3 separate regions of the Homo sapiens genome follow, and all the other regions are linked to region 2. Evidence: fine-mapped expression QTL. A gene starts in region 2. Each other region holds a variant in brackets. All regions are shown on one strand. Distances are between the middles of the regions.

Region 1 (10,127 bases), 47 kb after region 2:
GAACTTCTCCAGCTGGCTGTGATCGACCTCCAGAGGGCATGACCGTGGCTGAGACTCAGCTTTTCATGTTCCCAGCTCTGGCTTAGGGAGTCACCCCAAGGAAGCAGCAGATTAAGGAGAAATGTGGACGCATCCTTCCTGAGTGTTGGTTCCCCCAGAGAGATGACAGACCCCATGGCCAGCACTTCAACATATATTGAGCTGTGGGAATTAGAATCTAGGACAATTTGGGAGAAAAAAGGCTTTTGTCTTTAAGGCGTTTACAGCTTAAGGAGAGGATATCATATTCCATAGCTGTGACAAATCAAAAAATTAAAAGTAGTCTTTCCAAGGATGGTTTCAGTAGTTTAGCCCTAAGGAGTGAGGAATTTGTTTGGTTAGACATACTGAAGATGGAGACTATACTTCTGAGAATAAGCCTAAAGACTGTGAGTCTCGAAAGCCAATTTACACACCACGCAGAAAACTGACGGGTCTCAGGAAAACTAAAATGAGGAAAGCCAGCAGAGGCCCAGGCAGACGTCAAATTAATCTCTAGAAACAGAGGACAATCTGCTTTGGCTTGGCAAAAATTAAAATAGAACTTAGTTGAGCTTCAGTGTGAATGGAGGTGGGGAGAGTTCCTTCCTTTCTGTTGATGGGATGTAAAACCCTCACTAGCCAACAAGCTCCCCCAGGAAAGACAATGCCACATGCCTTCATTGCCCTGGTGAGTTGTGGGATGTCTGTCCCTCAGCAGGGTCTCAGTTACTGTGTGTTGAATGAATGATGGATCCAATAGAAGAAAAAAGAAGTGAAAAGAATGACTGGATAAAGCCCCATTCCAGCCCATGTTCCCCTGATAACAGTAATAAAATGAAGGACAGACTGGACTGAATTATTACGGTACTTTAACTTTGTTTAACTTTGTGAAAACACTATGTTTAGCTAGGATAATGGGAGTACTTGGACTGGTAATAAACAAATAAATGAGCAAAGCAATAATGTCTTACATTTGAAGTTATTTACAGCTTACAAAGCTATTACACACACATTTTTTCCATAAGAGCCTGTAAACCACCCTGTGGCACAGGCATGACAAATATTACTTTCCCCTTTTGAAGAACAATGAAACTGCAATTTAAATAACTTAAATAACTACAATCACAGTGCTCAGGGTGGCAGAGGACAGATTTAAACCCAGGGCTGAGTCCAAACACTCTTCCCGACCTGTGGTTCTGGCTCTCACGGGGGCCTACACTCTGGAAAAAATAATTCCACTCCTGTGTTCAGCCTGGTCCACTCCTCGCAGAATCTTCTTTTTCAATCTAGGTATCCGGGAATAACATTTGGTCCTGTTTTGTGTGAGTTTTAAATTTTGTGCAAATTATGCAATTAAATTACAAAACATGTAACACAAGCCTTCGTGTCTTCTCCCACAAACAAAAACATCCACTTATCACATCTCTGTGAATATCAGAAATTCCCCCGATTTTCCCTTTGGGCCTTCTCATGTTGTGTCTGGTCATTTACTTGCTCATTTCCCCAGACACTGGGCTTCCTTTTTTGAATTTAAACATTTTGTTATGCCATTTGTTGCTGCACTCACTTCAAATCTCTATTCTATGCTACTTTACCCCAGGGCCCTGGAGTGACTTTCTTTGAAGCTGGTGTCCACTCACTCTTTCTCTCCAGAGCTTTGGCCAGCTAGCCCCAGAAATCTTCCAGTGGCCCATCAGAGAGCAAGCTGGCAGAGCTGTCACTCCCGCCATGGAAGTCAGGTAAGGTCCCCAGGGACTGTTAGTGCACACATCTCATGAGACAGCTTTGCTAACCTGTCACTTTCTACTCTATGGAGATGGACTTTTTCTTTGTCTGTCCTCATTTTCTTTCTTTTTAATTGACTGCCTCATTTCCCAGGGGGATTTTATAACCGTCACACTGCACCATCTTCATTACTCTGCTCTTTTCACGGGTCTCACTAAGGCTTTCTCTTCTGTTGCAGTTGGTGCCTTTACACTTCAGCCCGCCTCCCACCCACTCAGCCTTCTTAGGTTGCTTGCTTCTTCCTGCCCGGTTGGATGTCAGGAGGAACATCAGAGACTCTCCAGTCCCGGGATTCCTAACCTGGAGCCCCTGGGGCCCATCAGTGAGTTTCACAGGCACATAGTGGGGCAGCTATGATGGTTTGAAGTCCCATGTAACATCCCCATTTTTCTGGGGAGAGAATCCATAGATTCCCATTTCCATCCCATTCCCAGACCCTTCATTTTGCAGATGCATAAACAGAGGCCCATAGCAAGTTGCTGGATTGGAGAGGAGAGCTGCCTTTTGGGACATCAGTCCTGTGTGCTTGGCTATATCTCTGTGGATTCCCCTGCCCTGGAGGTTTCCCAAGGGAAGAGAAGGCTTTTCCTTTCTCCTGAGCTTTTCTCTTTGTCTTCTTGCTTTTCCACATGGACACACACAACACACACAGGGACACACACATTAGGCACTTCCTTATACTTGTACTGCATTCAGGGCCGACTACATCATTTGTGAGGCCAAAAGCAAAATGGGACGTGGAGACTGGCAGGGGGCGGGGAAGTGGATCTCCCCTTCCTGTAGATGAGCCACTGCCTCAGCCTGTAGAGGACAGGCTATCTCCCCAGGAGTTGCAACCTTGATGCCAGGGTGCCAGGGTGCCTGGGTGCCAGGTTCCCTGGAATGAGGGTGAATGAGAGGCTCATACTCAGTTGTCCACTGCAAAAGCCACAGCACTGCAACCCTGAGGAGGGACATAACCTTGCCCCATGTGAGATACTGCGGAACGTGCCCAACTCCAGCCCTGTCTGTGGCTGCATCCAGGCCAGGACGACTAATAGTGGAACGTGGCCCATCAACACACTGGGCAGAAGGTAGCCACCACTATGGAGTTGGGGGTGGGGAGGGGGAGGCCAGATTGGGCTGTAGAGAACCCATCCCAGGGAGACAGTCGGGGGTGGGCCGCAGGTGAGACGAGGTGTCAAGCCTCCTGTGCATTATCCCACCAGACTTGAAATACAAACACAGCTAAAGAAAAAGTATTAAGATTCTCAAGGAGGCAATAGCAGAGCATCAGACCCAAGCACTGATCCTTCTGCACTAGCATGTGCCATGAAGCCACTCTGACATGTTTCAAAGCACGACAGCATCCTTGCCTTATGTGCCCCCCTAGGCAGCTCTTTGAAGTCATTAGCTCAGGTGTGCCTTAAGACTCATCTTACAGACAAGACTTCAGACATTACACATCGCCTAGGCACAGGAGTCTCGGATCAGAGAGTTCAAACGTGGGCTCAGCCACTCACATCGCCCCTCTGGGCCTCAGTTTCCTAATTTGCCAAAGGGGACTAATCATCCCTTCTTCAGGGTTGTTGTGTGATTACAACAAATTGCATATAGAATGCCTTCTATAGTGCCAGTGGCAGTCAGAGTGCTCAATAAATGTAGGTATCAGCTTTTCCCAAAATCCCATTCATGAATGCCCTTCACTAATTTTCAGTATTCATATGCCATGTGTACCATTATTGGCTTAATACTTTAAATTTAAATCTACCTAATTTTTACACTTTAATAAATTTACTTTATAGGGTAGCTTTATTCTACTGTCAAAAATGAAAGACAAATATTATTCATCTTAAGTATAAATTAATCATAAAAATAAGTGCATGGGCCAGGCACAGTGGCTCACGCCTATAATCCTAGCACTTTGAAAGACCAAGGCGGTACCGGGTGTAGTGGTTCACACCTGTAATCCCAGCACTTTGGGAGGCCAAGGCAGGTAGATCATCTGAGGTCGGGAGTTTGAGACCAGCCTGACCAACATGGAGAAACCCCGTCTGTACTAAAAATATGAAATTAGCTGGGTGTGGTGGCACATGCCTGTAATCCTAGCTACTCAGGAGGCTGAGGCAAGGGAATCACTTGAACCTGGGAGGCGGAGGTTATGGTGAGCTGAGATCGCCCCATTGCACACTAGCCTGGGCAACAAGAGCGAAACTCCGTCTTAAAAAAAAAGAAAAAGAAAAAGAAAGGTGGGTGGATCAATAATTTAGGCCAGGAGATCAAGACAAACCTGGCCAACTACTAAAAATATAAAAATTAGCCAGGTGTGGTGGCAGGTACATGTAGCCCCAGTGACTCGGAAGGCTGAGGCAAGAGAATTATTTGAATTGGGAGGTGGATGTTACAGTGAGCCAAGATAGCACCACTGCACTCCAGCCTGGGCAACAGAGCAAGACTCTGTCTCAAAAAATAAGTAAACAAATACATAAACACATGGAAAATGACAATGGTATGAAAATCTAGCCAGATAACTTGGCTAGCTTAGAGTCTGTACTTCCTCTTTGTTAAGGAAGGAAATTAGCAAGTGTTTAATACTTAGTCCCCCTGAGACTTAATCTGCAGGGAATAATATGTCCTTATTCAATTCAATGTTTTTTTGTCTGTTTGTTTGTTTGGAGACAGGGTCTCACCCCGTCACCCAGGCTGGAGTGCAGAGGGTGATCATGGCTGACTATAACCTCCAGCTCCTAGGCTCCAGCAATCCTCCCACCTCAGCCTCCTGAGTAGTTGAGACTACAGGCACATGCCACCATACCCGGCTAATTTTTGTGTTTTTGTAGAGGTGTAGTCTCCCTTTGTTGCCTAGGCTGGTCTTGGACTCCTAGCCTCAAGTGATCTTCCCACCTCGGTCTCTCAAAGTGCTGGGATTACAGGCGTGAGCCACCGCGCCTGACCCATTCAATGTTCTTTAATGCCTTACTAGTCATGTACCAGTTAACATCTCTCGTACCATGATTTGCCTGCTAGACTTTGGGAAGTAGCAAACATGAAGTTTGGAAGTGATAGAGTCAAAATTCACAACACATGTATCGTGAATGCAAAAAAATAAAACCCACACAAACTAATACTACATGCTATTCATGGACACATGGATTGAAAGAATTCACATCAGTTCCTTGATAGTGACTGCCTCTGAAGAAAGAGAGAAGAGGAAAGGGCTGAGGGTTGTGTCAAATTTTAACTATCATCGAAATGTTTAATTATTTTATCAAGAAAGTTTGAAACAAATGAAAAAAATTTTTTACAGTTGTTTATTCTGCATAACAAGGACATCTATATTTAATAATCTTTATATGCATTTTTAAAAGAAAATAAAATTTAAATTTTCTTTTAAAAGAATAAATTTTAATATGTAAAAGAAAATAAAGAGAAAGAAGAAAAAGTTTGATCAGGCAAAATGCTCCCAGAAATAGTTGCTGGGAAGAATTCAACATACGCTGATAAGTAAGGGACTGTATCAGTCAGCTTGGGCTGCTGTAACAAACAGCACAGACCAAGGTCAGGAGACTGTTCTATAAACAACAGAAATTAATTTTTACAGTTCTGGAAGCTGAAAGTCCAAGGTCAAGGTATCAGTGGAGTTGTTGTCTTCTGAGGTCTCTCTCCTTGGCTTGTAGATGGTCCTTGGCTTGTAGATACCATCTTCTTCCTGTGTCCTCACAGCTTCTTCCCTCTGTACATTATTTCTGTGTCCCCATTTTCTCTTCTCTTTTTTTTCTGAGATAGAGTCTCACTCTGTTACCAGGCTGGAGCACAATGGTGCAATCTCATCTCACTGCAACCTCCACCTCC[C/T]GGGTTCAAGCAATTCTCCTGCCTCAGACTCATGAGTAACTGGGATTAGAGGAGCACACCACCACACCCAGCTAACTTTTGTATTTTTAGTAGACACGGGGTTTCACCATGTTGGCCAGGCTCCTCATTTCTTCTTCTTATAAAGAAACCAGTCAAATTGGATTAGGGCTCACCTTAATCACCTCTTTAAAGGTTTTTGTCTCTAAGTACAGTGACATTCTAAGGTACTGGGGTTAGGTCTTTAGCATATGAATTTCGGGGGGAGACAAGTCAGCCCATAACCGGGACTTTCACTGGTGCCCCCTGCTGACTTCCCTCTTCATCCAGGAGCCTCTCACCTCTCCTTACTGACTCTGCTGCTCTTCCCTCCTCTTTCCAACATTCAGGCAGGATCTTCTGACTGCTCCACTGCCTGCTCCTTGCTGACCCTTCCTGGCTTCACCCCTGCTTCCTCTAGCCAATCTGCTGAGGACCTCCCTCCTCACCCAGCTCAGCCCTGACTGCTGCCCGAGTCCACTCCCATCTGTGGAGCCTCCACTCAGGAGCCCATGAATCAGCTTCCACCCAAGCTCCACTCTACAGCTCCATGCAGCTCAAACTACCTGCTCATGAACAACAACCAGAAGATGTTCCTCCCGTCTCAGATCAAGCCATCAATGCCCTTTCTCCTCTCTCTGGTCTCACTTCTTGAGATATGTCTGCCACGGGTATGTCTGTGGCATTCCTCTGCCCATGTTCTCTCTGTACCTCTTATCATTTTGAAGTCACAGGTTGTATCAGTCAGCATCCAATTAGGAAAGCAGAAAGCTCTCTAGACACTTACACAGGGGAACTGTAACACAGGGAACTCTTTACGTGGAGAGGGAGAGCTGAGAGGGCGGAGGACGGTGAGGAGCATGAAGGTGGTAGGTCATGCGCACCAGGGCAGCACCCTAGAGAAGGTTCAGCAACCAGACAGAGGGAACCCTGTTCATGGAGCTGCCACGCTGACTCTGACTTGTGTAAGCCCCGGCTGTTAAGTGGAAGAACAATGACCTTCTACTACATCTAAGCCACTGTTACTTGCAGTCTCTGTTAGGGCAGCCAAGCTCATACATAATGAATGCGTCTTTTTTTTTTTTGAGACAGAATCTCACTGTTGGCCAGGCTGGAGTGCAGTGGCACAATCTCAGCTCACTGCAAACTTCACCCCCCGGATTCAAGCAATTCTCCTGCCTCAGTCCCCCAGCTAGCTGGGATTACAAGCACATGCCGGGCTAATTTTTTGTGTTTTTAATAGATGTGGGATTTCACCATGTTGGCCTAGCTGGTCTCAAACTCTTGAGCTAAAGTGATCTGCCAGCCTCAGCCTCCCAAAAGTGCTGGGATTACAGACGTGAGCCACCACGCCCAGCTGCATCATTTTTTATATTGCTTGTTTTGGGGCAATTTGCAAAGACAAATTGCCTTTCCTTCCCATTCAGCTTGGCGACAGAGCCATGGCCATGGCCTTGCCATGTGAAATAGACTTGAGGCATTCATTATATTCAAATGAGTACTGGAGCTACAGTGACCAGCTGTGTCTGTTTGTCAAGGAAAAAGGGGTTTCCTGGGACATAGAATTTTCAGTGCTTACACAGGGAAAGTCCCCGGCAAACTACAGTGGGTTGGTGATCCTACCTGCTCCTTGTGCTTGTAGCAAGCATGTTTCTCAAACAGAAAAGCACCTGTCGGCATCCCTGGCCCTGGCCCTGTCCCCTCCCTCCCCGACACACAAACACACACACACACACATATACACCAGGGTCCAAACCACTGTGCAGGCGGCCACCTTCATCGAGCCTGGTTACCTCCCAGTGTCTCTGTGCTTGAGACACAGTGAGTTTTTCCCTGCCCACTGCTTCATTTCTGAAGAGAGTAAACATCGACTCAGCTGCGGCCTGCCCAGAGTCACCATCCCAGTGCTCTTCCAGCAGCTTTGGCCCTTTGCACCTGAGTCATTCTCCAAGATAAATTACGTTTCTCTGGATCTGAAGCTCACGTCACATTCCTTGCTTCTAGGAACTTGCTTGACCACAAATATGATTCTCTGGTCCCACGGTCTCTGCTGAGCTTCTGTGCTCCTCCTCTCTGCAGGAAAAACTCTGGGTGAGGGCGTCCTTCTTAGCAGAGTATGTCTCTCATCCTGCTTTCAAAGGTGTGCAGCTATTAATACATGGACTGGAAGGAACCGTGGACTGAGCTCTGTCCCCTGTGTTCGGAAACCTGCCTCTGCCTCTGTTCTCTCCATAACATTGGGTGGGTTGTTTCATCCTGCAGAGCCTCAGTTTTGGGGGGCTGAAAAATGGCCCCCCCAAAGGATATCCAAATCCAAATTTCTGGAGCATGCAAATGTTACCTTATTTGGAAAAAAGGTCTCTACGGATATAACTAAGTTAAGGATCTTGAGATAAAAAGATTATCCTGGTGAACCCCAAATGCCATCACAAATGTCCTTGTAAGAGGGAGGTAGAATGAGATTACACAGACAGAAGAGGGAGTCAAAGTGGCCCTTGAGACAGAGATTGGAGTGATGTGGCCACAAGTCAAAGAATGCCAGCAGTCACCAGAGTATGGAAGAAGCAGGACTGATTTTCCCTCAGGGCCTCCCAAGGGAACATGGTCCTGCTGTTATGTGCTGAATTGTGTCACCACCCCGAAAGTAATATGTTGAAGTCCCAACCCCCAGTGCCTCAGAATGTAGGTATATTTGGAGATAAGGTCTTTAAAGAGGTGTGTGAGTTAAAATGAGGCTGCTAGGGTGGGGTCCTGATACAATAGGACTGATGTCCTTATAAAAAGAGGAAGAGACTGGAGGCTGAGGCAGGAGAATCGCTTGAACCCAGGAGGCTGAGGTTGCAGTGAGCCGAGATAGCACCACTGCACTCCAGCCTGGGTGACAGAGCAAGATTCCATCTCAAGAAAAAAAAAAAAAAAAAAAAAAGAAAGAAAGAAAAGGAAGAGACAGCAGGGATGTGTATACACAGAGGAAAGACCATGTGAGGACAAAGAAGTGAGCAAGAGCCCCCTGCAAGTCCAGGAGACAAGCCTCAGGAGAAAAGTCCTGCCAACACCTTGATCTTGGACTTCCAGCCTCAGGAACTGTGAGAAAGTAAATTTCTGTCTTTTAAGCTGCCCAGTCTGTGTTTCTTTGTTATAGCAACCTTAACAAACAGATACACCTGCCAACACCTTGATTTCAGCCCAGCAATACTGATTTCAGACCTCTGGGCTTTAGAACTGCAAGAAAATATATCTCTGTTGTTTGAAGCCCCCCAGTTTGTGGTATTTGTTGCAGCAGCCCCAGGAAGCTAGTACAGGTGGTAGATAGTACCTACCTCACAGGCTTCTTTGAAAGATAGAGGGAGGTCACAGGTAGACCTGCTTGGCTTTGTGTGAGTACCCTCTACATTTTCGTGGCATCTGAATTCTCCTCTCATGGGGATTTTTCTATATGTTTATTTTTCTGCCCAAGTAGAAGCCAAAAAATAAAAATAAAAAATAAAAGCAAGACACACATGCCATGGTGGCATTTTGGGTCATCTTCTCTCCTTTCTTTTTTCGTGCCTGTTTCCTGCCTGAATGTTCCAGCTTCCTTCAATGGGCTCCATCTACCAGGGCTCCAGGTCAGCTAACAGTGAATTATTGACATATCTGCCTCATCACTTAATAGTAACACAATAGCTGACACTTATGGAATACTGATTCTGTGCCATGCCTTATGCTAAGTGCTTTACCTTCCTCTGAGCATCCCTTTAATATGGACTGCTATTATTCCAATTTTACACATAGGGAAATTGAGTCACACAGAGGTTAAAGAGTTTACCCAAAGAAGTGACAGACCTGGAAGACAAACTCAGGTTTTTGATACCCAAACCTACACCCTTACCCACTCTGACACCTTAGGAGGGGAGGGATCCACCTTATCTTAGTTAACTTTAACTCTTCACTGTGTGCTTGGAGCACAGTTTGGACTCAGTGAAGGCTTAATGGATGGACGGATGGATGAATGAGTAAATGGCACTTTGCATAGACCAAAGGAAAGTCAAGAAAATGTTCTTCAGCGCTTTGCTCTGTCCAGCTTCTCTTTAGCTTGACTCTGCTGCTATTGCTACCATGACAGTCCCGATCTATCCACCGTCATGCATGGCCCATACCCACACCACACCCTCTTTGTTCTCTGCCTCTTCTACTCTGGGGCAGGGAGAGTCTGAGTTGAGCAGCAGCACCTGCACACCCTCACCCTCCATCCACTCACCAATGGCCTCATAGCTCCTTGTGAATGGAAGAGACTAGAATTCTTAGGAGCCTAGTGAGAGAAGTCTAGATCCAGTGAGATTATGGAAATTGTGAGGGGCTGTGGACACGCCAGACATTATTGCTATCCCAATTTACAGAAGAGGACTTAGGTCCTCCTTTAACATCTCTAGACTTAGGTCTAGAGATGTTAAAGCCACAGAGAACTTGATGTT
Region 2 (9,777 bases):
TCTCTCCTTCCAGGCTCTACCACCTATTCTAACCTAGAGACTCCTGTGCCCCACTTTTCTCAGATTCCTTAACATTGTTAAGTAGAATTTTTCTGTTCTCGAACCTTCCTCAAATATCTTGTCTAAAGAAGTGGGTCATTACCACCACACAAAGGGACTTATCACAGTAAATGTTTTGGACATATGTGGAAGCTGAGTAGGGAAATTTCAAACAAAGAAGACCCGGATTCTGCAGCTTCCTCAAACTGCAGCCCACCATGGGCAACGGCAGCCCCAGGCGTCAGAAAGAACACCACTTGCCTCACTGGTCCAGAATCTGTCGGGCCACACCCTTCAGAGAGGCCCTGCCTCCGAGGCCAGGGTGCACACTGCCACACCCTGCTTGGTCTCCTAGACAGGCGCTTCCCCATCTCCTTCTTTCATGAACAGTGGTGACTGGTGACTCAGGCAGCGCTGCTTAGCAGAACTAGTGCCGGGAGTTCTGTCCAGATGGGGGGAGGGGAGGTGGAAGGTAGTGGTGTTAACAATCAGTGACAGTAGATCCCACTCATTTCCCTAGTCTATTTTACGACTTTGAACTCAGTATGCAAATTTATGCAAGACGAGATGCAAAGCAGTACTCTGAGCCAGAAGTCCCATTGCTTTTTCCCCCTTTTTTTTTGAAGCTGCACTGAACCACTGTAAATCAGTGCTTGCCTCTTCCCCCCTTTATTCTTCCCCGGCAACTGCAGATGCAGAGCCTCCCCAGGCCCGCCCGCCCGCCCGCCCGCCCGCCTGCCTGCCTGCCTGTCTGCCCGCCCTGGGACTTTGAACGACTACACATTTCTGTAGCACCTTTATACGTGCAGCGGGCCAAACGGCCACTCGGGCGGCCCCGCCCCTCAGCATAATCCCCTGCATTGTACACGGTAGGGAAGGAGGCTGGGGAGATACTGAAGGAACCGGTCTAGCCCAGCCTTAATTCTGAAAGGGCCTGGACTGGCCCAACCCTGTTCCCTCCTCGACCCTGACATTTCTAGGCACTTCTATCCACTCCACCACCAAACACATACACACGCTTTTAGAGTCCCAACTTCAAGCAGATCTCAGGGTCTCCTTTCGGTTTTTCTTCTAGGCCTACCCACCCCTTCCCCCAAGACTGACTTCTCAGTTTCTTTGAACCAACAAGCCCCAGCCCATCGTCCCCGTGGGATACAGGCTCACCACCACCCACTCCTTCCACCCACTGATGTGCCCACCCCCACCCCTGCATCCTTGCCATCCCCAGGAAGCCAGCAGCAACACAGCCCCTGAGTCCCGGGAACAAAGACAAAAGAGCTAACAGCAAAGCCGGAACTGCTGAGGTTCGCTGCCTCGAAATAAGAGGGTATGTTTAAAATTCTCAAAAGCAACCTGCTCAAAGAGGAATGCAGGCTGGAGGGGGGGTGCTCATTCTTCGGAGAGGAGAGAAGACGGGACGGGAGATGGAGTGGGAGGCAGAGGATTCAGTGCTAAGATCTCCGTCTGGGCCAGGCCCCACCCAACTCGGACCCAGCACTCTCCATCCAGTGACTCCAGTCTCTGCCCCAGCCTAAGACCCTCTCCCACACAAAAGCCTCCAACCTTGACCCCTTTTTCTCCTGCACCCTTGCAAGCTCAGGCTCCTTCCCAAAGTGCTCCCCTCCCCCAGCCCGACTCTTTCTCAGGCACCCCTGACATTGGTCACTTCTTTTGAGTGCACCCACTCAGCTTCCAGCCCCACCCCCCACCTTCCACCCCTGCTTAACATCCCCTCTTCCCAGGCCGGTGCACAAAAATGCGGAAGGCGTCTGGGCACTGGGGAGGAGAACGCAGCTGGGGCAAGCTGGCGGAAGGGAGTCCCATAACCAGGCAGAAAATCCAGAGTGACATTCTTCCCATGAACTCACCCCATTGTCCCTGGCCTCCCCTGACAACTACCCCCCACCCCCTTCAGGCTCCAGGGAAAAGTGAATGGGAGAAAATCTGCCGCATCTGTTCCTGGCTAAAGACCCTAACCGGCTTCAGGGATTTGGGAAGTAGAATTGGTTTTCAGGCTTAGAATAAGACGAATGAAGAGTAGGAAAAAAAAAAAAGTAAAACGTTAAAGAAGGAAAGGCATCACACACTTTATTAAAACAGTCAGCAGCCAAACCATCCTATGAACTTAGAGGCCTTTCAAAAAGTTCACCCTGCTGAGGAAGATGTTTAGTTTGTCAGAGTTCAGCTCAGAAACTGCACAGCACCTCCCCGGTGGACCACGAGGGGTGATGAGGAGGAACGCATGACTGGGGGACAGGCACCCCGCAGTGAAAGGATTTCGTGGGGGCTTTTTCCTTTTATTGTTACTTTCTAAGAGAAGCAGGAGGGAAGGGTTAACTTCCAGGCAGGCTAGGGAAGGAAGCGAGCCGAGGGAGAAGAAAGGGACTGAGAGGCTCCACTCAGAGGAAGCCCTAACTTGCTCTGTACTCCAGAGCAAAATGTGCTAGAGAAACAGAAGAAAGATTTCAACTCTGACCCCTAATTCCATTCTCAAGGAGAACAGGGAAAAAAACAATAGCCGACCAGGAGAAGGGAGGCGGGTTGGTGCATGGGGTGGGGGGCTTACGAAGACCTCAGAAGCTAAAAAGCAAGCATTCTTCTTTTCACTTTTTCTTTTTAAGTTTGAGAAACTTAAGACTCACTTGCTTTTTCAACAACAGCAGCAGGCAGTGGACACATTTCACCACTGTCTCCAAGAGGAAAGAAAATAATTACAGCTTCCTCCCGACCACTGGGGCAGGAGGCTTTCGTAATTAAAAAAAAAAAAAAGTAACCTCCTTAGAGCCTGGTTGTGTCCCTCAAATAACTTTTTGGGAGGGATGAGGGCCCCTGAACAAAGAATATCGGGTCCTCATTCTATCCTACAGGAAAGGGTCCCTCAATTTAAGATAGGGGCGGGGGTGGGGGGTGGCAACGCATCTCTCCTGCCTTTCGATCTGGGGCCCAGATGCGAAACCGCACAGCCTGGCTGCCCCCGTCCAGGGAATGCAGCCGGCGATCGGGCTTAAGTTACATTGATTCAGCTGCTAGGAGACCCCTCGCCTACCAAATGCCTCCCTTTTATTTTTCCATTCAACGTGGTAGCAAGAGCCCTGCTCGTTCCCTATGGAGAAATAGTAGTGGTGGTTTTCATTTTTCTCCTAAGCGACTCATCCTACAAAGTACCAAGTCCTTTCTTTCCAACTCACAACCCCAGTAGAAGGAAGGGCCCCTTGGGACGCCGGTGCCTCCTCCTAGCTCCCTCTCCTCTTCCAAGGTTCCTGGTGTCACTGGCACCCCGCAGCCTCCGCCTCCCAGCAGCGATCCCACCAGGACCCTTGGGTCCTCAAGCAGTGCCCCAAATAAGATTCGAGTTCCTACTCCCATGGATCTGACCACCGGCCCCCTTCTCAGCAAATCCCTCCTCCAGAATAGAAGTCTGGGTCCGTTCCACGCGGGTAAAACTATGGCAGCAGGGATGCCTTTCCTCTCCCCATTCATCCCCACCAAATGAGTCGCCAGGGCTCTTCCACTTGCTCTAACTCCAGTTCCCCTCCCCGGGCCTGACTTCCGCGTCCCGCTAGCAACAGTCCCCCTTGATTTGGTCCAAGGTCTCGGCTCTGCCGCCCCTAAAACCGTCCGTAAGGTCCAGCCGCCCGTCGGGCTTCTCCGCTGCCCTCCAAGTTTCTCCCAACTACTTGTTCCAGACCGCGTTACCTGCAACCTGCTCCGGGCTGGCGCCATACTCGGCGTCCCGGCGCTTCTCACAAGTGCCCTCGCCCATGACCAGCGCCTGCAGGGGCAGCTCGGAGCCCGGGTGGGGATAGCAGCGCAGCCCCTGGCCGCAGCGCGGGGTGTAGACGCCGCACGCCTCGCCCTCCAGCCGGGCGCACACCGAGCAGCAGCCGCAGCCCGGCTCCCGGACGAGCTCCGCGCATGGCATGCGGGCGCCTCCGGCCACTGCGGCCACCGCGGCGGGCGGCGCAACCGGCGGGGGCCCGCAGGCGGCCAGGCGCTCGGGTGTGCAGGGCGGGCAGCGGAACAGCACCTCCGCGCGCGCCCCGCCGCCGCCGCCACTCGCGCCCAGTAGCAGCAGCAGCAGCGGCAGCAGCGGCGGCGGCGGCAGCGGCAGCGCGGGGCAGCCCACTCTCGGCAGCATGCTGGCGGTCGGCAGCGCGGCGCGGCGGGCGAGCGAGCGAGCGGGCGGGCGGGCAGGTGGCACGGCCCTGCGAGCGCGGGAGCCGCCTCCTCCGCTTCTTCCTCCTCCCTCGCCGCCGCAGCCGGGTCCTAAAGGGCCGGCTTCTCCCCGCCCCCTGCCTTCTCCCCTCCCCCTTTTGGAGACCACTCCCTTCCCCCCCGACACTCCCTCGCGCCGGCAAGTGAGTGCGCGCACGCCCGCTCGCCCACCTCCGCGTTGGCTGCGGGCTCTGGGGGTTCCCTGCTCTTCCCGGGCCCCGTCCCTCCGCACTCTTCTGGCCTGACTATGACTCCTGAAGGAGAATACGGATAACTCGCGGGTTTGGGTAGGACCGGCGTGGCGGTGGAGAAGAGCGCGTGCTTTTGTCTGCTCTCAGTTCAGTTCGCGAGGACTTCGTTTGCGCGCTTCCCCTGTGGCCGGCACTGGGCTAACCGCTGGGGAACACAAAAGACATAAGGCTCCGTTTTGACCTTCAAGTAGATTTCAGTCGGCTCATACCAACTCCTTCCATCCTGGGGTATCACCCACCACTGACACGTGGCTTGGAACAATGACTTCTTGTTGGGTGGGTCCTGCGGAGTTTCAGACCCGTCTAGACCAAGCTAGACCCAAACAGCCCCGAATGGTCTTAGTGACTATTGCAGTTTTCCAAACCTGGGAGCTCGTGACTACAACCTATGAGAACCCTAAGTGCCCCGCAAAACCTGCCCCCTTCGTCTGCAGACCCCCTCCCTTCTCCGCCCGCTAAAATAATCCCTTAGCACCCTGGGCCCCCACCTACAAATCTCGAGGCACTTGTTGCAGGACAGATCCCAGAACACTCAGTTGCAGGGGTCTTGGAGAGGTCAGATCAGCTCTCCAGGTGTGACAGACCCGCTCTGGGGTAAGGCCATTTATGGCTGTCTTCAATAATGCAGATGGACAAGCATGACCTCCTTTCATTGTTCTGTTTGATTTACTGAGTCATCTACCCAAGCTGCCCCCAACCCCCATCATTCCAGGCTGGACTCAGCCATAATCAACCATCTCCTGGGGTGTGACCCTAACAAAGACCCCTGTCAGAGAGATTCCTTGGGTGACAGGTGGACCATTAAGCTGCCTCCACCGCAGGTTTCATCTCCCTATACCTCAGCGCCCCTCTTCCCCCCAGACCCCTCCACTCTGGCTCTTTCTGACTTCAAGGCTCAGAGCCTGTTTGATTCAGTTCAACAGCTAGTTAACCCAATGGCCACCTGGCTCTGAAGGTGACCTAGATGCCTCCAGGAAGGCAAGTACCTGGTCTTAAGACGCCAAGCTGGGAAGAGTTATCGGGAAAGACTTTGGTAAGATAAAAAATAAATAAATAAATGTTTATCAGAGGCTTTGAAGAAAAGAAATATTTTGGTAGAGAGGTGATGTGGTGGTTGAGGAAAGGGGAGTTTCTTGGGTGAGTCGGAGCTGAAATTGAAGCTTGTAATTCTACCAGAGGAAATGGGCGGTTAGCAAGGGCACAGGCAGAGGGACCACCTGAAGCAAAAACACAGAAATGGGGCCGGGCGCGGTGGCTCACACCTGTAATTCCAGCACTTTGGGAGGCCGAGGCAGGTGGATCACCTGAGATCAGGAGTTCAAGACCAGCCTGGCCAACCGTGGCCAACATGGTGAAATCCCATCTCTACTAAAAATACAAAAAATAGCCAGGCACGGTGATGCACGCCTGTAGTCCCAGCAACTTGGGAGGCTGAGGCAGGAGAATCGCTTGAACCCAGGAGGTGGAAGTTGCAGTGAGCCAAGATCGCACCACTGCACTCCAGCCTGGGTGACAGAGTAAGAATCAGTCTCAAAACACACACACACACACACACACACACACACAGAGAGAGAGAGAGAGAGAGAGAGAGAGAGAGAGAGAGAGAGAAATGGGAAAATGAGTTTGGGGATCAGAAAGTCCACTTCAGCCAGAGTGCAGGATGCTTGCAGAGAGCAGCAGGGGAGGCAGGAAATCCAGTTGACTGTGGCGCTTTGGCTTAATATGCTGGGCAGTAAGGATACAGCATCCATGTTTGAGCAGAGGAAGAGATGGACAGAGCTGGACTTCTGGAAATCATTAGCACTATGTAGAGTGCCGATCTGAAAAAAAAGTAAAAAAAAAAAAAAATCGTTAGCACTATGTAGGGTGCCGATCTGAAAAAAAAAAAAAAAAGAAGTAAAAAGCACTATGTACAGTGCCAATCTAAAAAAAATAAAAATAAGACACAGGAAGGATCATGGTCATTCCACCTTCATTCTCCCTGGTGTCTCCTGCCTGCTTTGTAACGTGTTTCTGTTGGTCCCACCCACTGAGCTCCTACAGAGTAGGCACAGGGTCTAGCACAACGCTGTCCAATAGAAATCTACTGCAAATCGCAAACGTGAGCACATGTGCAATTGTAAATTTCTAGTAGCCATATTAAAATATAGTAAAAAGAAATAGATGACATTTATTTTAATAATATTCTTAATTTGGCGGTATATCCAAAATACTATCATTTCAATGGGTAATCAACACTAAAATTAATGAGAGAGTTAACATTCCTTTTCTTATACTAAATCCTCAAGTTCTGATGTGTATGCTATACAGCACATTTCAGTTTGAAGTAGCCAAAATTCAAATGTTTGATAGCCATGTGTGGCTAGGTAGCTATCAAATTGGACAGCCCACAGGTCTAAATACTGCCTGGCACCAGGTAAGCACTCAATAAATATTTGTTGAGTGAATGAAAAGTACAGTCTCTCAAAATATTCCTGGCAGGGCCCCTCATTCTCTTTCTGTCTTAATTGCAATGCCCAGGAGCTGGGAATGAAAGGCTGTGATGAGTCTATTAAGAGGCTAAGAGTGGCATTGATTCATTCATTCCCATGCAGCTACTCACTTATCTTTTGGGATTCATTCTCTTTCCACCTCCTTTTAAAGTTCTTGATCTTTCAGCCAAGAGCAGTGGAGATGAGCAGGCAAAGTGATGCTGACTTGACAAATGCAAAGTACTCAATGATATTTCACTTTCTAATGAGCCTGAAGGCCACACCCAATTCTTTTCTCCTAGTTCCCAGGTTAATGGCCAATTTTACCCTTCCCCACCCTAAATACACGCAAACACATAACAAAATAATCCCATATTTTTAAGGCTTTTCCTAACCTCTCCTGAGCCTCACTCAGAATCCCACTCCCCAAAGGCCAGCTGCTACAGAGGCTTGAATCACAGAGCATCCTCAATCCATTGAAGCCTAGAGAAGTAGGGGGACTCAGCCCAGAACCCAGAGCTGGTTACTGGCTGGCCTACAACTTAACCATTTTGCTTATTACTGTAGGCCCAGGGCTAGAACGGTGCCTGCACAGAGATACTCAAAGAATATTTGTTGAGTGAATCCAGGTTCTCCGCTTGTTGTCTCTGGCTTTGCCCATCCCATTGTTCCTGGAGCATTCTTCACTTTAGATTTCTCATGAGTCCTCTGCAAAGGTATGTCCTCAGGCTTGAGAGCCTGTCTGTGCCCAGCAGTGAGGATTGGTTGAGAGATGGGGACAGGCTAAGACTGGTTTTCTCCCTTCCCCTTAATCCCTGCCTTTTTCCATCTCAACCACGTTTTATAAACCCCACCCTTACATGGTTTACCGTAACTAGGTACCACCTGTACTATTATTTACATAATTTTTTTAAAGTAAGGCAATTCACTCTTTTTTTTTTTTGCTTACGATCATTTTTAAAAGAAATTGTATATCACTACCATAAATGGAAATGTAGTATTGATGGCCATCTATAGATGGTAACCATAAAACACAATGAAAACAAGACAATGTTATTTGATTCGAGCTGGATACTGTTGCCTGCTGAAGCTTCTGAAGCTGGCACACTCTTCCCAAGTTAAGAAAGATGAGACAATTTAGAAGAAGCATTCAAGTTAAGTCAAACCCAAGCTGAGATTTTCTCCACTAAGTCATCAGGAGAGGAATGTTTTTTAAAAATATTTTATTGAAATATACATGCAAAAAAAAGTAGATAAACCAGATAAATATCCACAAATTGACCGCACCGTATAACCAGCTCCCAGATCAAGAAGAACATTGGCCAGGCACAGTGGCTTACGCCTGTAATCTCAACACTTTGGGTGGCTGATGCAAGAAGATCACTGGAGCCCAAGAGTTCAAGACCAGCCTAGGCAATATGGTGAAACCCCGTCTCTACAAAAAATAAAAAAATAAGCCAGGTGTTGCGCATGCCTGTAGTCGCATGCCTGTAGTCGCAGCTACTCAGGAGGCTGAGGTGGGAAAATCATTTGAGCCCAGGAGGTAGAGGCTGCAGTGAGCTGTAATTATGCCACTGCACTCCAGCCTGGATGACAGAGTGAAATGCTGTGTAAATAAATAAATAATAAAGAAAAGAACGTTGACAGCATATGGAAAACCTTTCATGCCCCTACTGGTTATTATCCCCATGCTCTGCAAGGGTAAACATTGTCCTGACTTCTGCTGGCGTGGATGAGTTTTCACATAAATGAAAACTTACAATAAGCAGTTGTTTTTGTTTTTTTGTTTTTTGGAGACAGAGTCTCGCTCTGTTGCCCAGGCTGTAGTGCAATGGTGTGATCTCAACTCCCTGTAACCTCCACCTCCCAGGCTCAAGCGATTCTCCTGCCTGAGCTTCCAGAGTAGCTAGGATTACAAGTGTCCACCATCATGCCTGGCTAATTGTTGTATTTTTCGTATGGAACCAAAAAACAGTGCAAATAGACAAAGCAATCCTAAGCAAAAAGAACAGAGTCAGAGGCATCACATTACCTGACTTCAAACTATACTATAAGGCTACAGGAACAAAAACAGCATGACATTGGTACAAAAACAGACACATAGACCAATGGAACAGAATAGAGAACCCAGACATAATGTTACAAAGTTGAGAAAATAAGCAATGGGGAAAGTACCTAGTCAATAAATAGTGCTGGGATAGCTTGCTAGCCATATGCAGAAGAAAGAAACTGGACCCCTACCTCTCACCATATACAAAACTGAACTCAAGATGGATTAAAGATTTAAGTGTAAGACCTCAAACTATAAGAATTATAGAAGAAAACCTAGGAAACACCATTCTGGACATCATCCTTGGGAAAGAATTTGTGACTAAGGCCTCAAAAGCAATAGCAACAAAAACAAAAATTGACAAGTGGGACCTAATTAAACTAAAAAGCTTGTGCACAGCAAAATAATCTATCAGCAGAGTAACAGACAACCTACAGAATGGGAGAAAATATTTGCAAACTATGCATCTGATAAAAGTTTAATATCCAGAAACAATTCAACAAGGAAAAAAGCAAATAACCCCATTAAAAAGTGGGCAAAGCCACTTCTCAAAAGAAGACAGACAAGTGGCCAATAAACATATGAAAAAATGCTTAACAACACTAATCATCAGAGAAATGCAAATCAAAACCATAATGAGATACCATCTCACACTAGTCAGAATAGCTATTATTAAAAAGTCAAAAAACAACAGATGTTGGCAGGGCTGCAGAGGAAAGGGAACGCTTATACACTGTTGGTGGGAATGTAA
Region 3 (10,127 bases), 96 kb after region 2:
CCAGCCCTTGAGGGGCTGAGAGCCTTGGAAAGAGAACAGGAGACCTGGGTTCCAGTCCTGGTGCTATCACCATGAGCTGTGTGGTCTTGGTCACCTCTAAGATTCCGCTTTCTTGTCTATAAAGTGGTAAGGCTGCATAAGGTGGTTTCTGAGGCCCCTCCCTATACTAACAAGCTCATGTTTGTGGTGTCCTAGTTCTTCCATGACAAGACTTCCAGAGTCTCCTCCTGTCTATCTGCTTTGCAGAAGTGGCTCCTGGAACTGTTCATGTCCAGGCATTTACTCCAGGGGACTCCTGGTCATTTTCAGGCATAGACACTGCATCTCCACGTCTGTCCTGCTGCTGCCCTTTCTCTTTCATCTGGGGGTCCTCCTGGACTTCTGGGAATGCCATCCCTCCCTGCCCCCATCGTATTCCCCCAAGGCGTCTGTGTCCTCTCACTTTCTTGTCTTCTACCCAAATTCCTAGCTCCCTAAGCCAGGTAAAAAAGCAGTTTAGTTCGACCTACACTGGCACTTTCTCAAAACCTCCCCTGCCTCTGGCACATTCCTTGTGTCTCGGCAGGACCCAGAGAGCTGGAGAATTCCTCTCCCTCCTTAGCGTGGGTCCCCGTGTTGGCATGCCAACAGCCCCAATATTTAAAGCAATCATGAAAATGAGCTCAGAGTCCCATGCCAGAGCCTTGAAAGGAATTAGGCTAAAAACAGGACAAAGGAAGAGGTGAGGCCAAACAGAAAATGCCATGAAAGGCACTGCCCAGCATGGCTGGATCCCAGAGCCCTCCTCTCTGGCTTCACTCACCTATAGCCAGGCACTGTGCTAGGCACTGGGGATGCAAAGTTGAATGAATCATCCCTGCCCTTGAGGAGCTCCCAGGCCAGCTGAGAAAGCTATACAAATGGACAATCACAGTACAGTATGGTAAGCACAGACAAGATGCCACCGAAGGCACAAGGGAGCCATCAAAGCAGAGGGTCCTGGCTGTGCCTGGGGTCCATGACGCATCTCCTAGAGCCTTGATCTAGGCCTTAGGACAGGCATTCACACAGGGACAAGGCAGAAGAGGTGCTTCCAGAGAAATGCAGATGCAAAGGCACAGAAGCATGAAACAGGATGAAGGAGGGAGAGAAAGTGCACAAGTGTGACTGCTTGGTAAACTTGGTAATGATCCAGCCTCTCCATTGGGCATGTTTATGTACATGTAATGTATGGAGAATGAAATTAGACTCAGCCTTATAATTGAAGATTTTTTAAAAATGTTAAACTAGATGGACACATGGATGCTTGTGTGTGCAAGGAAATTACTGGGCAGAATGCCTTTATCAGAAGGTGCCTGGAGTGCATGCCGAGCACGGATGTGTATAGCGAGAGGGTGACATAGCTATGTGCCCACAGCACCTTTCCTGTGATCAGTCCCGGGAGACTCCCTGCTGGAGGGGAGATGAGGTTTCCCCAGTCATTTGAGTGAAGGAAGAGAATCAGCTTGGCAGGCTGGGAGAGCTGGCAGTGCCCCAGACACCTGGCACAATGCAGGGGAAGGTGTCAAGGTCAAAAACGATGCCTGAGTGAGTTGTGACTAAGCGAGCCCCAGGGCTTCCTGGTTACCAAGAGGAGATGGGAGTGGTGGGCAGGCCCAGGGCCTCTCCTGCCACAGTGCTTTCAAATCCTCACAGCAGGCACAGAGAGTAGCTTTGGCTTGAGTCTTGGGGAGCTGGGCAGCCGCACTCAAGCCTCTTTTGGAAAGAAAGAAGTAAAATGAAAGTGACACAAGCAAAATGATCATCAGGTGCTATTAAAAGAAATTCGTTATGACTAAGACATCTGCAAATAATAATGGTGCTCATTTTCATCATCATCACCATCATTATCATCACCATTTTTATTTACTTAAGTGGTTCTAACATTTACTAAGCACTTATGAGCCAGGCTATATTAAACTTCACATGCACTTAACCTTCATAACAATCGGAAGAGATCAGTATTCTTGCTCACATGTTACTGAAGAGGAAATATCCCCTAGGAAGGCTATATTAAGGTTCAGGGTGCCCTAAAACCAGGCAGTGTGTATTTAAAAAGCAGAAAATGTTATGGGCTGAACTGTGTTTTCCCCCAAAAATTCTTATGTTGAAGTTCTAACCTCCAACACTTCAGAATGTGAATGTATTTAGAGATAGGGTCTTTAAAGAGGTGATTAAGTTAAAATGACATCATCAGGGTGGCTTTTAACCCACTATGACTGGTGTCCTTGAAAGAAGAGGGAATTTGGACACAGACATGTATAGAGGAAAAGACCATGTGAAGACACAGGGAGAAGACAGCCATCTATAAGGCAGGGAGGGAGGCCTCAGAAGAAACCAACCCTGCTGACACCTTGATCTCGGACTTCCAGCCTCCAGAACTGTGAGAAAATAAATTTCTGTTGTTCAGCCCCCAGTCCATGGTGCTTTATTATGGCAGCCCTCCCAAATAAATCGAGAGAGCAATGACCCAGGAGTACCTTAGAGAAACTAGGAGAAACAAGGCTGCAGGGACCGCATGGCACCCATGCAGGGGAGCTGACTGCCTGCACGCCTTTGCCTTGCCCTCAGCTGTAGGACACCTGAGGACCCCTTAGCATCCTCAGCTCAGCTCTGAGAGTGATAAGCCCCAGAAGGTTTGGAGTTGTACAACAACAGTGCAATTGATGGTGTCTTCCTTGACAAGATCAGGACTTGAAAGCAATAGGATTAAAAACTGGGGTTTAAAGAGATTAAAACACAAAACCTAAAACAAAGCAAAGCCAGCATAATCTTTCTACTCTATAGACCTTTAACCACCAAACCACTATGAGAAGTAGGGTCAAGGGGGTAGGCCAATATTTCCACCTGGCTTCAGAAGCAAAACCAGTGCCCAATAGGAGTTCACTTTCTCACACGAAATGGGCCAGAGCCCGGAGGATGAACCTCTGGGAGAGGCGTCATTAGGATGGGTCAGTAACTAGGTCAGCAGTCACTGTGTCTGGGTTCTCTTGGATTCCTCGAAGCAAGTTAATTATTAAAGGGAACAGGTGAAAATATAGTCTTGAGGTTTGATTAAACTAAAATTGGTCTAGTCAGAGAGTGGGGTGGGGAAGAGGGTTTCAAGAATTCCAATCGGCCCCCAATGATACTGCAGAGACCCAAGTTGCCTTGGAATCTGCAATCAATGCGGAAATCACCAGAAGTATAGAGGAGTGACGGCTCCGGGCTCCAGTGCAGCAGGGCCTAGAGAACGAGAAAGGCATCCTGAAACTTTAAAAAAGTTGCATCTCTGTGTTGACAGCAGACTTTAAAACAGGTACAGGCCACTAGGGCAAATAGAAGCCTGACCAAAGATGGGGAAAATAAGGAGGACTTTCTGGAGGAGGTGCTCTGGAAACTGGGCTCTGGAGGAGGAAGGAGATAGAGCTCAAAGGACAGAGGAAGGTGCTTTGTCCCATGGAAAGTATGAAAGAGAAACTCCAGTGGCTGGGTGCGGTGGCTCATGCTTGTAATCCCAGCACTTTGGGGGGCAGAGGTGGGTGGATCACCTGAGGTCAGGAGTTCGAGACCAGCCTGGCCAACATGGTGAAAACCCATCTCTACTAAATACACAAAAATTAGCCAGGCGTGGTGGCACTCACCTGTAATCCCAGCTACTCAGGAGGCTAAGGCAGAAGAATCGCTTGAACCTGGGAGGCGGAGGTTGCAGTGAGCCAAGATAACACCACTGTGCTCCAGCCTGGGTGGCAGAGCAAGACTCAGTCTCAAAAAAAAAAAAGAAAGAAAAGAAAGAGAAACTCTAAAGGTTCAGTGGACAGCAGAAAGTTCTCCATGAAGAGTTTAAAGCTAGAAGGGGAGTCCTGGGTAGCACCTAAAAGGCATGTGTGTTTGTGTGTGGGGATGTATGTGTGGTGTGTGTGTGTGTGCATACATGCAGGTATGATGTATGTATGTGTGGTATGTGTGCATGCATGTGTGTGGTGTGTGATGCATGTAATTTTGTATGTGCATGCATGTATATGGTGTGTGGTGTGTGATGTATGGTATGCATGTGGTATATGCTTATGTGTATGCATGTGTGTGCGTGCAGTGTGTGCATGTACAGGTGTGGCATGTGCATATGTGCACACGTGTGGTGCATGTGTGTGGTATGTGTGCACATATGTGATGTGTGGTGTGTGCACTTATGTGCACGCATGTGTGTGGTGCATATGTGGTGTGTGTGTGTGTGTGTGTGTGCTCATGCACACACATCCTGGGACTTTAATGGTAAGGATCATCTGGCCGAATATCTCTGGTGAGGAGAAAGCAGGTGGCCCAGGCCAGAGCTAACAATAGCAGGATTTAGGGAGAACTGGGCAAGTTTGTCAGGGGCCTCCTGAAGCAAACGAGGAGCCACAGTAAAGGGTCTTGAAAGAGGCCTGCTGGATTTTCAATCAGACCTGCAGTGTCAAGTTTCAGCTCAAGTGATATCCAAATGTCTCATATTTCTATTTTATCATTTCCATATTTTCAGTGAGCAGAGCTTACCATCTGCACAATGTTGAGCCAAAGAAATAAAAACCAAGAGGAAATTGCACTACAGTGCGGCATAATCAGTCTGATCCGCCTGGGATGTTAGTGGAGACATGTGTGTCTTCACTCATCTGAGTATTAATGTCCTGACTGTTTCTAAGCAGGAAGTTTCCCATTTGGCCAGGCTGAAAGGCAGCTCCAAAATGGAGCAGCAGTTTTCTGTTCTCCACGAGCTCCCCTCCCCTGCTCCTGAATCACGTCACTCCCCAGTCGCTGCAAATGATTCTCATGTGTTGACAGGTTACACAGTTCAAGACAAGACATCAGCAGGAGTCTGGGTTGCAGCAAGAACCAGATAGCAGAGCAGGGAAGCCATGTGAGCTGGCTATTAGGTGACAGGGGCAGGCAGTGATCTGCCCGCTCTTTCCAGCCTCTCCCTCCTGGGCCCTGCTGATGTGTCTGGTTGTCCTCTGCAGCCTAGTCCATGGCACATCTCAGAAAAGGCATGTCAACTCTTCAATCCTTCATTTCTTCATACGAAAAGCAGGCTCATAACACCTACCTTGTAAGGCAGTAGGGAAGAGTGCTATGTTTCATAGAAAAAGATGCTAACAGAGCATCCAGCACACACTATTACTTAAAACATGCTTCAAACATAACAATAATAGTACACACTTATATCATGCTTACTACATGCCATGAGTGGTTTTAAGCACTTGATATTTTATTTATGTGTGTGTGTGTGCACACATGAACCAATTTAATCCTCACAACCCTGTAAGGCAGATTCTACTGTTATCCCTGTCTTACAGAAGAAGAAACTAAGGCACAGAGAGGTTCTGTAACTTAACCATGGTCACAGAGCTAGTAGAGCCAGGATTCAAACTCAGGCAGTCTGGCTCCAGGGACTAGGTGTAGATAAATAAATGAATTAATTAAAAGTTGATGTGTTGGTGGATGGATGGGCAAAGAACATGGATTCCCATGAACTCCAGTAAGGAGCAAGTTATCTAAGCAGCACATTGACAAGTTAAAGGCTCGAAATTCTAATCCCAGCCCCCATCAAGTCCAGGAACTGCAGTTGTTTAATGTTGCTACAAAGTGGCATCACCTACTCCAAGCTAGAGGTGAAGGCTGCTTCCCTTACTGAGACAGGCTTAGTATGCCATAATTTGGAAGGTTATCACTGGAAAGCACTCAGGTTATCACCTAACTCCTAATTTTATGTTTGCAGGAACTGAGGCAAGAGAGGGAAAGTGACCAGCCTAGGGTCACACAGTGCCTGTTCAGACGCGTGCCACTTCTATGCCCAGCACTGTTTTTATGACATAATTTGGCATCTCCTTCACACTAGGAAAGCAGAATCCGGAAGTTGGGGGAGGAGTTATGGACAGAAAAGCAAGATTGAAGAGTGGAATACACTGCCTGGCAAATTGTTTTAAAATGAGAA[G/A]GTCATACTTTGTTGCAAGGAAGTTCCTGTTTATGTAAGTCTGGTGAAGTCATCAGACCTTTTGCCTCTCCCCCGCCCCTCCCTGAGGCATCCGGAGGTCCACGGAGGGAAAGGACACTGGTACGGAATGCACCCTACACTCCCACGCTGCTTGCTGTTCCCCCAACACGCCTGAGAGCATTCCACATTCCCACTGCAGCATATTTGCTCACGCTGTTCTGGGACTGAATCCTCCCATCCCTACTCCCATCCATGCCTGGAGTAAACCTCCCCAGGCTTCAGGGACAGCTCGAAAGCCCCCTCTGTGACTCTTTCCCAGCCGTCAGAGCCAGGATGGACTTCCTGAGCTCCAGGGGCACTTGAAGCCAGTGGGGAAAGTTCTGGCTCCTGCATCAGCCAGGTCTGGATCTCTGTTCTGATTCTCTGTTCTCTGCTCACTTAAGTGTGACCTTTGGCAAGGACCTTCATGATCTCCCTGTCTCCATTCTCCCACTTATCAAATGGGAATAATAACAGTCCCCTCCTCATGAGGTTATATAATAAGATCAACATATATAAAGAAAGCATTTAGTACAGTGCCTGGTACTTAGTAAATGGGAGACATGATTGCCACTCTTGGAGGTCTTATTCCACATGCTTTTTTGATTTATGGTTGTTTGGATTTGTATCTTATGTCCCCTTCTAGAGAGATACCTATCTTTTGGCAGGAACTGTGTCAAGTTCAACTTTCCAATCCTGCTGCACTCTGAGCCTTGTGCAAAGTTGTGCTTTGTGAGCATGTGTTAAGTTGAAGTGAATTGGAACAAAAAAGATGAGTTAATTGTGGCAAAAAGCAGGGCGTTATAGTTTTTGTAAAAAGCCTATGATGACTGCCTTTATAAATAGACTTCAGAGGTTCTGGGTAGATGTGCAGAGTAGAATATTGCTTTCAGCTCTCATTACTAGTGTTCTTAAGGATGAGGTTGAGAGAAGCAATAATAATAACATCCTCCTATCAAGGACTTCAAATGGTCCATGTTAGGTTCTTTGTAACTTCACTTATTGCCCACTAACAACCTCTAAGGTAGACGTTATTATCCCTATATATGGATAGGAAATTGTCCCTATATATGGATAGATTCAGAGAGATTAAGTCACCCAACAAGGTTGGAGAGCAAGCATAGAGCTGAGGCCGGGTTTGAATCCAAGCCTGTCTGACTCCCAAGGCCATGCTGTACCCTGAACAGGTCTGCAGACCGCCTTCTGCCATCTGACCTAGGGCTTGTTTTGGTATGGCCATCAAGCCAAGGTGGGTTTTTACACTTCTAAATAGTTGAAAAAAATGAAAAGATTAATATTTTGTGACACATGAAAGTTATATGGAATTTAAATTTTAGTGTCCATAAATAAAGTTCTACTGGAACACAGCCACATCTGTTCATCTATACATTATATAATGTATAGTCCTGCCAACTATACATTGGCTGCTATAACAGAAGTGTTGAAATATTTGCAGGAGACACTGCATGCCCCTTAAAGCCTATATTCCCTATCTAATTTTTTCAGAAAAAGTTTGCTAGCCCCTGCTCTAGGTCATACTGACTCTTACAGACAAACTTAATGCAAAGAAAACTGCCCTTTCCATAAAAGTCATGCTACAAAAAGGGCACCCATCTCTGCAGCAATAAATCTTGGTCTCCAGATTCTGACTTGCCTTTATGCGTGCTGAGCCGCCTTGGTTCTTGCTTTCATCCAGCTCGCAATATGATGTGAAATGAGAGCAGCCACCAGACTCTGCCGGGCAGAGACAACAGGCCACAGCAAGCCTGGAAGCAAAGGGAAAGGAATTTAGAGCCAGAAGTCAGCTCAGCTTCATTAATGCCTTCACCCCCTTGATTCAGGGTTTCCTGCCGCATCTTGTTCAGCTGTGAACGTGCCCAGGCCCCAAGCAGGGGCAGGAGGCTGGAAATGATGAAAGCACAGGGGCTTCAGGCTCCCTGATTCTTTATCCAGTCTCCACCCTGACCACTGGGCAGAGGCCTGGCTCAGCATATCTCTCCCTGGGAAGCCTCAGGCAATCCCTCTCCCTGAAGAGTACTCAGTCTGAATGTAGAATGAGCGCTTGGCCCAGCTGTTCCATCGCCCATCTGCCTCACTCACCTGTTTTCCTTCTCCTTCACACTGCACAAACACCTTTTGCCCCTCCATTGTCTCCCTATGGGGTGAGCTTTGTGGCATTCCTTCATCCAGCAAGGGCTTTTGAACACCTGTTGTGTGTCCAGTTTTGTAGAGACACAAAGGAAGTAAAAGTAACCCAGGAGGTTTCTATTTGTTTCAGGATACCAGGTATACACATGGGAAGCCACAGAATGATCCTTGAAGAAATGCTGAGCACCAGTTATGTGCTTGGTATGCTCCAGGTGCCTTCATAACCATGCTTTTGCTTAAGCCATAAAACACACCTGTGGCCCAGGCATCCTTATGCCCATTTTACAGATAAGAAAACTGAGAATCTGAGAGATTGCCTGGAGATCAGATGGCTGTTAAGGGATGGAGCTAGGCTTTCAATTCAGGTCTCACTGGTCCAAAATGCATGCATCTTTGAAAAACTGGGCTGCTCCCTCTACCAGGATGTCATTGGGTGCCTCGGGGTTACAGGATGGGGATTTTAAGACAAATTTCTTAGGGAAAACAATCTTAAGTCCTTACACCGCAGCAGAAAGCACACTGGAACACCAATAAAGAGATTCTAGACACAGCCTGGCCGATCCTATAGTTAAAAAAAAAAAATTCTTCTAGACCCAACTCTTCCTTTAATGAGTTATATGAGTTATATGTCTCTGGGTATGATTTCTTCCCTTCCCTGGGTCTTAGTTTCCACATCTGTAAAACTAGATAGTCTGGACAAAGTGATCTCAAAGCATCGCCCACCTTCACTGCTTCTCTCTGTTCCTGCTGCTTCACAAATACAGTGCTTGGGCACAGGATTCAAAGTTCAGCTCTGGCCGTGAGTCACAAAACTCAATCCAGGTGCTTCCATCTGAATCTTGGAAAGACAAAAAAAAAAAAAAAAAAAAAAGCCCTAATAAAACTGATAGTCTGGCTATCTGGGTTCAAACCACAAAACTAAATTTTAAAAAAATAGAGGCAAAAGATATTATATAGCTGCTATATTCCTTTCTAAATTCCTTCCTGCTTGGTTTTCATGGAACTGTTTCCAAGAATAAATCAGGCTTCTGTTGCATTTGCATTGCTGGAGCCTCCTGAAGCAGGAGATAAGAGGCAGCAATGTCAAAAAGGAAACTGGGTGGTAGGGTGGGAGGTGGTGGCAGAAGGAGGCCTAAAGCTTGAAGGACAGGAAGGATTTAAACAAAGTGAGGACAAATCTTAAAAAACAAACAAACAAAAAGAGTAAAACCCCAAAGGCTTTTGGGGAAACTGTGAGGCGACCAGTTAGTTTTAATAGGAATTATCAGGGAATTAAGGAGAGACTAGAAATATAGGCAATCTTAAATGCTTTCAGCAAATTAAAAATGTGACTTAACATCCCAGTAGCTATAAGTACACTTAGCATCCAGATCTTGGTTTCTAGTAACACTGTCCAATATAAAAAGAACTAGCGTTCTTTGAAGAAATGTCTGATTCTAGTAGGACTGTAGCAAGAAATATACAAAATGAGTTTGGAATATCTTGAAATACCAGAAAATAAAGAAGTGATCAACAACGAATTTTTTAAAAAACCTACAATACAGCTGGGCACGGTGGCACATGCCTGTAATCCCAGCACTTTGGGAGGCCAAGGTGGGAAGACCACTTGAGCCCAGGAGTTCAAGATCTGCTGGGCAACATAGCAAGACCACACTAAATTATGTATAATTCTCCCCCTGCAATTTTCTTTTTTCTTTTTCTTTTCTTTGTTTTTGTTTTTGAGACAGGGTCTCACTCTGTTACCCAGGCTGGAGGGCAGTGACTCAATCTCAGCTCACTGCAACATCTGCCTCCTAAGCTCAAGCAATCTTCCCACCTCAGCCTCCCAAGTAGCTGGTACTATAGGGATGTGCCACCACGCCCGGCTAATTTTTTTGTATTTTGGGTAGAGACAAGGTTTTGTCATGTTGCCCAGGCTGGTCTCAAATTCCTGGTCTCAAGCGATCCATCTTCTTTGGCCTCCCAAAGTGCTGGG

What was found. PIP is the estimated chance that this variant, and not a neighbour inherited with it, causes the effect.
Region 1: its variant is fine-mapped to the expression of IGFBP2 in whole blood (TOPMed, PIP above 0.99).
Region 3: its variant is fine-mapped to the expression of IGFBP2 in adrenal gland (GTEx, PIP above 0.99). The same link has a PIP of 0.9 or more in fibroblasts, lung and pituitary.

What each region holds. Positions count from the first base shown.
Region 1 is chr2:216,580,845-216,590,971 of GRCh38, reverse strand. It overlaps LINC01280 (long intergenic non-protein coding RNA 1280), which reads left to right. Exons shown (of 4, transcript NR_110392.1): 4 at 1-979. Among named protein-coding and RNA genes, the nearest start is that of LINC01280, 21 kb to the left of the region's middle. The variant C/T (reference allele first, on the strand shown) is at 5,638.
Region 2 is chr2:216,627,924-216,637,700 of GRCh38, reverse strand. IGFBP2 (insulin like growth factor binding protein 2) reads right to left here and starts at 4,281. Exons shown (of 4, transcript NM_000597.3): 1 at 3,736-4,281. The coding sequence starts at 4,177.
Region 3 is chr2:216,531,564-216,541,690 of GRCh38, reverse strand. No RefSeq gene overlaps it. Among named protein-coding and RNA genes, the nearest start is that of RPL37A, 38 kb to the right of the region's middle. RefSeq lists an enhancer at 1,792-1,881. The variant G/A (reference allele first, on the strand shown) is at 5,966.